3 linked regions of the Homo sapiens genome follow. The protein of the gene in region 3 purifies or fractionates together with the protein of the main gene of each other region. This does not show direct contact. Each region holds a gene or a part of one and is shown on either strand. Other genes may lie near its edges.

Region 1 (3,937 bases), about 65 Mb from region 3:
GCCAGGCGTGGTGGCGGGTGCCTGTAGTCCCAGCTACCTGGGAGGCTGAGGCAGGAGAATCACTTGAACCCAGGAGGCGGAGGTTGCAGTGAGCTTAGATTGCACCACTGCACTCCAGCCTGGGCAACAGAGCGAGACTTTGTCTCAAAAAAAAAAAAAAAAAAAAGAACTGCAGAGATTCTCCAAGTACCTTTCACAGAGGTCTGGTCAGCCATGCTGGTAGGCCCGAGTGGGCTCCTGCAAGGGAGGTAAAGGGAGTCCTAAAAAAGGAACTCTTTTTTAGACTCAGGGTCTGGTTCTGTCTCCTAGGTTGGAGAACAGTGGTGTGATCATGGCTCACTGCAGCCTTGAACTCCTAAGCTCAAGTGATATTCCTGCCTCACCCTTCCAAGTAGCTGGGACTACAGGCCTGTGCCAGCACACCTGGATGTTTTTAAACTTTTTTAGAGATGGTTCTGGCTAGGTTGCCCAGGCTGGTCTTGAACTTCTGACCTCAAGCTATCCAGCCACTTCAGCACCCTGAGTTGCTGGGATTACAGGTATGAGCCACCATATCCAGATCTTTAATTTTTTAGTTGAGAAAATAGGCTCAAAGAAGTGAAGTTAGACCGGGCGCTGTGCCTCACACCTGTAATACAAGCACATAGGAAGGCCAAGGCAGGCAAATCACTTGAGGTCAAAAGTTAGAGACCAGCCTGGCCAACAGAGTGAAACCCCATTTCTACCAAAAAATACAAAAATTAGCTAGGCGTGGTGGCATGCACCTGTAGTCCCAGCTATGGAGGCTGAGGCGGGAGAATCGTTTGAACCCGGGAGGCGGAGGTTGCAGTGAGCCAAGATTGCGCCACTGCACTCCAGCCTGGGCGACACAGCCAGACTCCATCTCAAAAAAAAAAAAAAGTGAAGTTATTTGCTCCAAATCAACAGCTAAGAAGTGGCAAAACTGGCTGGGCACAGTGGCTCACGCCTGTAATCCCAGCACTTTGGGAGGTTGAGGTGGGCGGATCACAAGGTCAAGAGATCGAGACCAGCCCTGGTCAACATAGCGAAACCCCGTCTCTACTAAAAATAGAAAAATTAGCCGGGCATGGTGGCGGGTGCCTATAATCCCAGCTACTTACTTGGGAGGCTGAGGCAGGAGAATTGCTTGAACCCGGGAGGCGGAGGTTGCAGTGAGCTGAGATCATGCCACTGCACTCCAGCCTGGGTGACAGAGGGAGACTCCGTCTCAAAAAAAAAAAAAAAAAAAAAAAAAAAGAAAAGAAAAGAGAAAAGAAGTGGCAAAACCAAGGATCTAAGGAGGAGCTAATGGAAAAAAGGCAAATAAACACAGACCTATAAAAAGATACTCATGGTAGACACAAGTATGATGTACTACAGAAAAGGGCAAGGACAAAGAAATATTGACACTGGTTTTTAAGAATTCCCAAGAGTTAAGGGGAAGAACTCTTTCCAGGAAAGGAAACTATACACATGACTTCAGTGCAGCAGAAAAGTAACTAATTACAGATACAAGTAAATTTCCAACCAAACAAAGCAGGTAACTGGAGCCTCCCCCTCTGGAAAGCTATGCAAATAAGAGGTCACCAAATGGCCCAAGAATACTCGTTTTGTCAGTAAATTGAATGTTCCAACTCTTGTGCTAAACCCAAGAGAAAAATGTATTTAAATATTTAAACTGCCTTCCTTCAGTTTATGGTCTTGTAATGGGAACAGGTGATATCAGTACACTGTGATAAGAGCTTTGATCAAATTCTGCACAAGAGCTGCACAAGGGTGGCAAGAAAAGGGTAACCTTGCTAGGATGGCTTCTTGGAGGAATCTCTTCCTGAGTCAAGTCCTAAAGAATAACTGAACAGGAGCTATTCAAGTGAAAGAAAAGGAGAGAGAATGTTCACACCAAGAGCCAATGAGGTAGATACAACCTTTTCCCTTGATCTCATCAGTACCATGAATATCACTCTTGGGATTGATTTAATTGCCAACAATATCTTTATAAATATAATCTTAGTTTCCAGGTTCTAAAAGGATGTAGGATAGAGCAAGTAATAAGACAAGCTGTGGCCAGGAGTGGTGGCTCACACCTGTAATCCTAGCACTCTGGAAGGCCGATGCGACGGATCACCTGAGGTCAGGGTATTACCAGCCTGGCCAACATGGCGAAACCCCATCTTTACTGAAAATACAAAAATTAGGCCGGGTTTGGTGGCTTACACCTGTAATCCCAGCACTTTGGGAGGCCGAGGAGGGCAGATCACGAGGTCAGGAGTTCGAGACCAGCCTGACCAACATGGTGAAACCCCGTCTCTCCTAAAAATACAAAAATTAGCCGGGCATGGTGGCACATGCCTGTGGTCCCAGATACTCAGAAGGCTGAGACAGGAGGAATCGCTTGAACTCGGGAGGTGGAGGTTGCAGTGAGCCGAGATTGAGCCACTGCACTCCGGCTTGGGTGACAGAGCAAGACTCCATCTCAAAAAAAAAAAAAAAAAAAAATTAGCTGGGCGTGGTGGCACATGCCTGTAATCTCAGCTACTTGGGAGGCCAAGACATGAGAATCACCTGAACCCGGGAGGCGGAGGTTGCAGTGAGCTGATATAGTGCCACTGCACTCCAGTCTGGGTAACAGAGCGAGACCCTGTCTCAAAAAATAATAATAATAATAAGACAAGTTGAGGCTGGGTACAGTGGCTAACGTCTGTAACCCCAGCACTTTGGGAGGCCGAGGCAGGCAGATCACTTAAGACTTGAGGTCAGGAGTTCGAGACCAGCCTGGCCAACAAGGCGAAACCCCCTCTCTACTAAAAATACAAAAATTAGCTGGACATGGTGGTGCACACCTTAATCCCAGCTACTCGGGTGGCTGAGGCAGGAGAATCGCTTGAACCCAGGAGGCAGAGGTTGCAGTGAGCTGAGATCATGCCACTGCACTCCAGCCTGGGATACAGAGTGAGGCTCCATCTCAAAAAAAAAAAAAAAGACAAGTTGTGAGTAAAGCCAGTACACCAACACTGTCTTTCCTAATACTTCTGACCCAGGAAGAATTTTATAGTCTAGTTTAAGTTGGTTTTGGAAACCACTCTTTTCTGCTAAAACAAAATCAAAACTTCAATCTGAGTGTCAAACCACAAGCTACCAGGGCAATGCTCTTTATAATCAAATTTCCAAGGGATCAAGCAAGCAAGTCTGGACTTGACAAGAGGAACCTGGTGGCCTGCTGCCACCAGGGTCTAAGGCAGGTTTCCTGGGCTTAATGCCCAATGACCTGTTGGCCTCTCGCAGATTACCCAGCACGCATGAGAAGGCTCTGAAATTACACCTGGGGTGAGAGCTTGAACAACACCCTGGCTTAAGGGGAAAAGGAAGAAGAAACCTGAATCTTGCTTCTCCCTTTCTTTTGCTGGTGAAACTGAACACCGAAAAGGCTGAGGCTTGGGGAACAGGGATGAAAGATGGAGGAGATCTGCAAAGAACAAGAGCTCCCTAGGGAAGAATGAAGGTGCCACATAGATGTTTTTCTCTAGGACAGAAAATCATCCTCGGCCAGCTCTTGACTTCCTCATCTTCTGCTTGATACAACTGCTTTCCAGCCTAGCTGTGCGTGAACAGATTCCAGACTCTGAGCTTGTCAGGAACTGCCTATCTGGACCTTTGGCAGCATTCAGAAACCCTCATGTTATCTTTTTTATTTTTATTTTTTTGAGATAGAGTTTCATTCTTGTCACCCAGGCTGGGGTGCAATGGCGCGATCTTGGCTCACTGCAACCTCCACCTCCTGGGTTCAAGCGATTCTCCTGCCTCAGCCTCCCCAGTAGCTGGGATTACAGGCATGTGCCACCACGCCCAGCTAATTTTTGTATTATTAGTAGAGACAGGGTTTCACCATGTTGGCCAGGCTGGTCTTGAACTCCTGACCTCAGGTGATCCACCAGTCTCA
Region 2 (3,937 bases), on a different chromosome or scaffold from region 3:
TTGTGCACATGTACCCTAAAACTTAAAGTATAATTAAAAAAAAAAAGAAAAAGAAAAGAAAATAGCCCTGGAATGTATCAGCACTGTCAGCCCTCAAAAATCCAGTATCTCCAACAAACTGGGTGTCACAAGGCTTTCTAGTGAAGTGTTCCACACCTGTTTGTTGTCATCTCTCATTAATGTGTGGCATCTCCTGGGATGCATCTTTCAACCAACCAGCATCCCAGATTTATAGGTCAAAGCAGAGGATCAGAGAACTCATCCCAGGGAGGAATGGCACTTGCAGAAATGGGCAGCCATGACTTTGCTTGACTCTTCTGTCTTCTTGCTAGAGTTGTTTTTTAGCTTCCAGACATGAAATGCATTGGGGCTCAGATGACCGGAATAGGCTAGATCTGTCAGTGATGGTCCAAGGGACTTTTCATTGGTAAATCTGCTGAGACTGCTGAACAAGGCTAGTGATGCCTTGCTTGTGAGCTTCCTAATCTGGCTGCTGTATGACATTGCAATTCTGGGCTTCAGGGCCCCAAACCAGCATATCCAAAGAACCTGAAGCCAATTGTTCTGTCATTCTTTAAAGACCCAACGCATGGGATGGCAGATGCCAGGTGCAGAATATAACCTCCTGTCCATCCCTACAGAACATCATATACTGGAGACAAGAGGGCCCAGCCTACCCAGAACAAGACCCTTTCTCCAGATCACTAACTTTCTTGAGGATCTGAAGTTAAGCCACATGCCTAGACTCTTCCTGGGCCAGCAACCATTTTACTTAGAATGTCAAGGGGAAATCCCCTTGGAAATACTCCAGTACCCATTGCCTAAGGACTATGTGCTTATTCTCTTTTTGACCAATCATTATAATTCCAGAGATTTAGGAAGCCCATTGCTGTATCAAGGACTATAAAATGGTGGTGGCCAAGGTGTCAAGGATCCCAGACCTGCCTAGGACTCTCTGTGCCATTGTCCCTGGAGAGAGAACCCAGTTACTCTCACTTCCAGTGCAGTGGCTCCTGATCTTTGAGTTGTTTGGCTTGTTTTTACATGTGATTATTTCACTTTTAAACATCCAGGAAAGAGGCATCTGCAGAAATAAGGATTTCTTTAATAATTTCTTATGTTGGGCACTTGGAATGTCCTGCCACAGGTACATGCACCATGGAACTGGCAAGTGGGCAGACAGAAAGGACAGGCTGGCAGTGCAGGTTTCCCAGGATCTCATGAGGTAGGGCTGCTGCTGCTGCTGCTGCAATATCTGCTGGCCGGAGGCTTTGCTTCCATTTTAGACATCCCAAACAAAGTCATCTTGGGGGACCTAGCCCCAAACCAATCTTGGTACTTAGATCAGGCTGCCTGACATAACTGAGTCTCATTTTCTGTTTCGGATACTCCCAGGTTCTCATGCTGCTTCCCAGTGCCTCCCCCATTAGATGGTACCTAAAGTAAGAAAGCCATTGACACAGAGAGGAGAGAGGAAGTGAGACGGGTCACAGACAAGTGATGGCCTAGTCTCCCAGCCCCCATCCTGCCATAGCACTGTTGCCCTTCACCCTGCCTTGGGCTCTGACATGCTCCCTTCCCCCCCACCCCCGGCAGACTCTGGATGGGCACATGGTGGTGCGTAGCCATGCCCGTGTGTCGTCGCTGACCCTGAAGAGCATCCAGTACACTGATGCCGGAGAGTACATCTGCACCGCCAGCAACACCATCGGCCAGGACTCCCAGTCCATGTACCTTGAAGTGCAATGTAAGGAATAAATGGGGAAGGACCTGGGGGAGGGAGGGGCAAGGCAGGGTCAGGATGAGAGAGGAAAACATCAGCAAGGACCTATGTGCACCCTGTGTGTTCTGCTTACGTTCCCTGCAGCTGACCCTGGGCTATTTCAGAGCTCTGTTCCCAAGCCACCCCCTACACACCATCTCCAGGCTTCTTACAAGCCTGCTGTGCCCTTGAGTCTTCTTCCCATGCTGTGCACAGGAATTCTAGAATGGCCCTGACCTCTACTATACCAGGCGCTGGCTCTGCTTTGGAGCACACCTGCCTTCCCAGTGCCAGGAGACAGGATATGGGGGCTTCATAATCATGGCAGTCATCCTGACAGTCATTGTTATTTATTGCAGATGCCCCAAAGCTACAGGGCCCTGTGGCTGTGTACACTTGGGAGGGGAACCAGGTGAACATCACCTGCGAGGTATTTGCCTATCCCAGTGCCACGATCTCATGGTTTCGGGATGGCCAGCTGCTGCCAAGCTCCAATTACAGCAATATCAAGATCTACAACACCCCCTCTGCCAGCTATCTGGAGGTGAGTCAGGATGGGGGTGGGACAGAGCAGAGAAAGCACAGTTTGACTCTAGGTGGGCTCCAAAATGCAGCTCAAGTCCTCTCTCCTGCTTCTCTGGCACATCCTGAGCAGGGAAGGCATGGGCTAGAGAAGACACTGAGCCTCTTTTCAGCTCCCCTTCGCCCACTCTACCAGTCCCCTCCCTGAATGTGCCTCTCCCATGAGCCCCTCTGCTATTCTTTTCTCTTGTTTAAGGCTGGGCTGGAGCTAATGATTTATACTTTACTAGTTCTGTTTTTTACTAACTTAATTCAGTAAATAAAGATCTGAGTCTGTGACCATCCCATAGGACACTTGTAACCCAATAGCTTCTTCCTTCTAAAGGTGACCCCAGACTCTGAGAATGATTTTGGGAACTACAACTGTACTGCAGTGAACCGCATTGGGCAGGAGTCCTTGGAATTCATCCTTGTTCAAGCAGGTGAGTGTCCCTTACTCACCTGAGAGCAGCTGCCACAACCCCCCACCTAACCCTGCCAGCCCAATTTGTGTACTTGAGTGATTCCAGGATATTGGGAAGAAGAAAGGGCCAGGGTCAGCAAAGCCAGAGAGTTGGGAAGCTGGGAGCCATTGGATCAGCGCATGGGGCATGTTGGGGGAGAAGCATCTGGTGAGATGGGCCAGGAGGACAGGATACAGTGACAGGATTCCCAAGAGTGAGCAGAAATGACAGAGATGTGCCTTGTGACTGAGAGTTAATGGTCTTGGGCCAAACTGGGCTCACCTGAGTCTCCATATGTGTCTTCCCCACAGACACCCCCTCTTCACCATCCATCGACCAGGTGGAGCCATACTCCAGCACAGCCCAGGTGCAGTTTGATGAACCAGAGGCCACAGGTGGGGTGCCCATCCTCAAATACAAAGCTGAGTGGAGAGCAGTTGGTGAAGAAGTATGGCATTCCAAGTGGTATGATGCCAAGGAAGGTGAGTTGGGCGAGTTGGTGTTTCCATTGGGATCATGAGTGCCTCAGTACTCAGATGTCCCCACCTGCCATCCTGGGCATGTTCCTACAGAATCAGGAACTGCACCTCCAGAATTAGGTCAAAGTCATATCTGCCTGTAGAGTTGTTGCCCCTATTGCCACCCCAACCCATGCTCTGTGCTTCAGAGCCTGGTTCTCATGACCCTTCCAGTATGGATGAAGGCATCTGTACCACATTCCAGGCAGGAACCTTGTGTAGGTTCTGAGCGCAGCCAGATGAGTCCAGCCCATAGGTTCTGAGCATGGCCAGATGAGTCTAATCCATCCTACTCTGCACGTTTGAGTTACCTGTGCTGCAGGTTCTCTGCCGACACCCGGCCAGTCCTGCTTGGATATCTGTACTCAGGGACTGGCTGTCTTGTAATTGTGATAGTAACCAAATAAGCACAGCCAGCAGGACAAGTCTGCCCTTAAATCAGTCCTGTGCTAGCTTTCCAAGCTAAAGATTAAAAGACTGACCCTTGGATTACTGCAGTGTGAAGATTCTGAGCCCAGATCATCTGAGGATAATGTGTGCTTATGTTGGACTCCCCTTTTTGGGTTTAATTGGAATAACTCAGTGAAGTATGTTTTGTTTCTGTACAAATTTTTAATCCTGGTCTCGTATGT
Region 3 (3,937 bases):
CTGTTTGGCCTGCTGTCTACTTCCCAATCCATCCCCACTAACTATAGTTTATGCTATCTATATTTCCGATGTGTTTGGAAAGGGAGGACAAGGATTTTGAAGGGGGAGCCTGATTCTTCTCCTTTACCCATAAGCAACTAGACGAGGCATTCCATTTTTTAAATTAACTTCTTTCCCTCACCCTCCCAGGGGTTGAGGTGTGAGAGTGGTGATCTGCATCATCAGCATGCCCATTCCAGAATGTTGGTGAACCCCAGCTATGCCCCACACAGCTCTCCAGAGAGTGGCACCAGCTGCACAATTCTTAAGTGTTTCCAGAGTTCTATTAACTTTGAGATGCACTCAAAAAAAAACACCCTTTTCTTGCCGACACTTCCCCCCTACTCAGCCCTACAGTAAGCAGCTCACGGGGAAAGGTAGCACAGGTCTTGGTGCCTTCTAATAATCCTATAGTTCACATGCAGATATCTAAGAATTCTACAAATAGGATGGTGGGAAAACATCAGGCCTCCTCCCTCGTGCTAGACAAGATAGGGGCAGAGGTCCCCAGCCAGGATTTATGTAATACAAAACTCTTAACACATAATAGTAGTACTTGCTAAACATTAGCTTCAGTACTAAACAATCTCATTTTCCCCCTAGAAATGTTACTAATAGGGAAACTAAAGGATGCCCTAAGTCTGAGAGCCCTTCCTGGGGCTGGGCCACCCCCCTAAATCATAGGCTTTGCAGAATAGGCACTGTTGGTGAGGATCTCTAATTCTCCTGCCTTTCTCCCCAGTAACCACCCTGACTTTTTCTACATTATCCTCTGAGGATAGAATGGTTTTTGATCAATTTAGTTGCTGATAGGAAAAACCATCTAATAACCAGATTAATAAACACTGTCCCACTTTTAGGGTGTGATACTGCTTACTAAGCACAAAAAATGCACTGGATCCTCAAAATGTTAACAATAAATTCAGGGGCTAATCCCCCACAGTTGTAATGTGGATACTTGAATGACTGTGCTTTTGTTTCTGTATGACTTACAACTGTTCTTTTCTATAACAGATGAGCTCCTAGTAAGTGAAAAATAACAATGTTCTTTGGGAGCTTCCTACTTAAAAAAAGAGAGAGAGATTCATTCTAACCAACTTACCACACTTTATATATTTGTATGACTGTTTTCTGTATTCAGTCTGTCTTACTAGACTGAATGTTCCATGGGGGCAGGGTCTATGTCTGCATTGCTCATGAGTATATGCTCATTACCGTAAGCCCAGTGCCAGTATACAGCCTGGAACATAGTAGGCACTCAGTAAAATACTGTTGGTGGATGGATAGATGGATGGATGAATTGATAGCTGCACACATTTATGAATAAACAAATAAGGATGAAGGGGATAGTTGATGAAACTGAAGAGATGAGAATGGCTCTTGAGGCTATGAGAAGCTAATGAGAAAAATTAAGCAGGGATGTGATAGATTTGCATTTCAGAGAAATGTGACGAGCAGATGCTACTGAGAGGTCAAATAGGAGAGAAATAACAAGACTCTATTGGTTTAGCAACAAAGAAATCTAATAACCTTGATAAGAGCTAGTACAGTGGAGCAGTGGGGGCCAAAGTTAGTGAACTTTAGTTTTCAGTGGAGTAGCAGAATGACAGAAAGTGGAGATACCTAATAGACCATTTTTTACAGAAGTTTGCCTGTGAAGGTCAGGAGGAGCTAGGGTGATACTAGAAAAGGACGCAGGATAAGAAGTTGTTATTAGATAAAACTAACTCTGACAAAGCCTGGTGCCTGTATTGAAAATAAGTCACTGAGGCTGATCCAACTCCTTTCCCAGACAATAATTAAAATGATCTAGTGAGGAAGCTCTTATTGGAGGTGGGGTGTGGGGGAAGTCCTGCTTAAGGTGTTCCTGCCAGGTTCAACCCAATTAACTGCTCTTAAAAACAAAAAGAAAATGAGGGGACTGGAGAAGTTCTAGGGTTTTTGCTTTATTTTGGAGTGAGCCATTTACAATGTATGACGTGGACTCTGGTAACAGAACTAAAACCCACCAAGCTTGGTCTAAGACATGGGATTATGTAGAATAATGCAGATTTATGTAGTCTGCTAAATTAACTAAGGAAAAACCTAGACCTTGGGAGAGATTTTTAATATCTTTGAGTCAAAACTGAAACAAAGTTGGAAGACTTCAAGTTAAGGGACGGGAAGCATGGTAGGTGCAAAGGCTCTGCCCTTGGTCTTCTTGATACATAGTGGACACGGACTCAGTTATTAGAGACAAGTCCTAACCATTCACTGCTGCTACACGCAGACACCAAGGACAGACCAGAGATGAAAAGCTCTGAACTGGGGGACCAGTAGCTAGCTAAATTTAGGTAGCTAAGAATATAGAGGTCAACATCCTCTAGACACCAGCACAGAACCCACGTCCATAGAACAAAAGGAAGTTTACTTTACAGAATGATGCACTGTATTATTCCTTGCTCATGAGAGGACACAATCATCACATTATTATGAACTGAGAGAAGAAAGTCTAAGTCATTTGAGATCTGTGTATATTTTCTAACCTAATTTCTAGCCTGACAGAAGTGCCTTAGAGGAAAATTATGGTTATAAATTGCCTCAATGGGGGCCTGATAAAATGTCTTTTTAACTTTTGAATATATAGTCCTGGCGTTTATAGCACTCTTCATTCTAAATAAGTTTTGTTCCTTTTATCAAATCAGAATGGGAAAAAGTATATTAAGAGACTTCTTCCTCACCACTACCACTTTTGCAATTTCTGAGCATCGCCAGTAGTGATGGGGTGAAAAGAAGGGGGCAGGTCTTGACCATTATTTAAAAGCAGGGGCTGAGGGAGGGAGGTGTCTAAGAGAAAGCACATCTGTCACTCAAATGAATGGGTGGATGGTACCAATAGAAAAAACTGAAAAGAGTAGGCATAGGATAAGGGAAATGTGAGTTTATGTTTGGACAAGTTGACCAGAAGTTATAAAGATATGGTAGACAATTAGGAGTCTGAAGCTCTTGGGAAAGCAGAATGGAAACCACAGTTAATTGTTTGAGTGTTAAGTGCCAAATATTAAGTACTTTATCAGAATTTTCTCAATTAATCTTCACAGTCTTATGAGCTAGGTAATATTTTCATCCCCAATGCCGCCTCCCCCATCATAAAAGCGGAAGCTTAACCCATGTGACGTGCGAAGTTGTTTGCCCAAGGTCACGCCCCAGTAGGAAGAACAGCCTGGATGCAAGTTAAGGCAGACTGATTGCAGAACCCTGTTCAGCTACACCACCATAAGTATGCAGGTGGTAATTAAAACCTTGAGAGTAAATGATTGTCCAGGGAGCAGATATCAAGCGAGATGAGTACAGAACTGTAACAGGCGGGCCGAGAAAGTGGAATTAATGAAGGGGAACCTAAGGCTTTGTGGTTCTTTTATTATTATTAATTTTGAGACAAGGTCTCACTGTCGCCCAGGCTGGAGTGCAGTAGTGTGATCACAACTCACCGTACCCTCGACCTCCCAGGTTCAGGTGTTCCTCCCACCTCACCCTCCCAGGTAGCTGGGACTACAGGTGTTATACCACTACGCCCAGCTAATTTTTTGTACTTTTTGTAGAGACGGGGTTTCGCCATGTTGCCCAGGCTGGTCTTGAACTCCTGGGCTCAAGCGATCCACCCACCTCGGCCTCCCAAAGTACTAGGATTATAGGCAGGAGCCTCCATGCCCAGCTGGTTTTGTGGTTCATAAGCAATGCATGGCCAGGTTGAAAGCAGAAGTGGCCTTGAAAAGCCAACGCTACGAAACCCCTGGAGACAGAGAGTACACCTGGGCTTTACGAGTGAATGCAAACCCTGGCTAGGTTCCCCTCTAGACCCCTGTGGGATAAAGCATGACTGTTACTTAAAAACGGAAAGAAGGAATAGCACTTAACA

What was found.
Region 1: the proteins of SLC16A4 (region 3) and AKR1A1 purify together in Homo sapiens (affinity purification with mass spectrometry; one large-scale study listed by BioGRID and IntAct). This does not show direct contact.
Region 2: the proteins of SLC16A4 (region 3) and NCAM1 purify together in Homo sapiens (affinity purification with mass spectrometry; one large-scale study listed by BioGRID and IntAct). This does not show direct contact.

The regions. Positions count from the first base shown.
Region 1 is NC_000001.11:45,556,955-45,560,891, reverse strand, and holds part of AKR1A1 (aldo-keto reductase family 1 member A1), read right to left. Parts: intron 1-3,937. UniProt on the Homo sapiens protein: Catalyzes the NADPH-dependent reduction of a wide variety of carbonyl-containing compounds to their corresponding alcohols.
Region 2 is NC_000011.10:113,230,049-113,233,985, forward strand, and holds part of NCAM1 (neural cell adhesion molecule 1 isoform 2 precursor), read left to right. Parts: intron 1-1,147; coding exon of another isoform or gene 1,148-1,225; intron 1,226-1,596; coding exon 1,597-1,747; intron 1,748-2,121; coding exon 2,122-2,306; intron 2,307-2,669; coding exon 2,670-2,766; intron 2,767-3,098; coding exon 3,099-3,269; intron 3,270-3,937.
Region 3 is NC_000001.11:110,384,527-110,388,463, reverse strand, and holds part of SLC16A4 (monocarboxylate transporter 5), read left to right. Parts: intron 1-3,937. UniProt on the Homo sapiens protein: Proton-linked monocarboxylate transporter.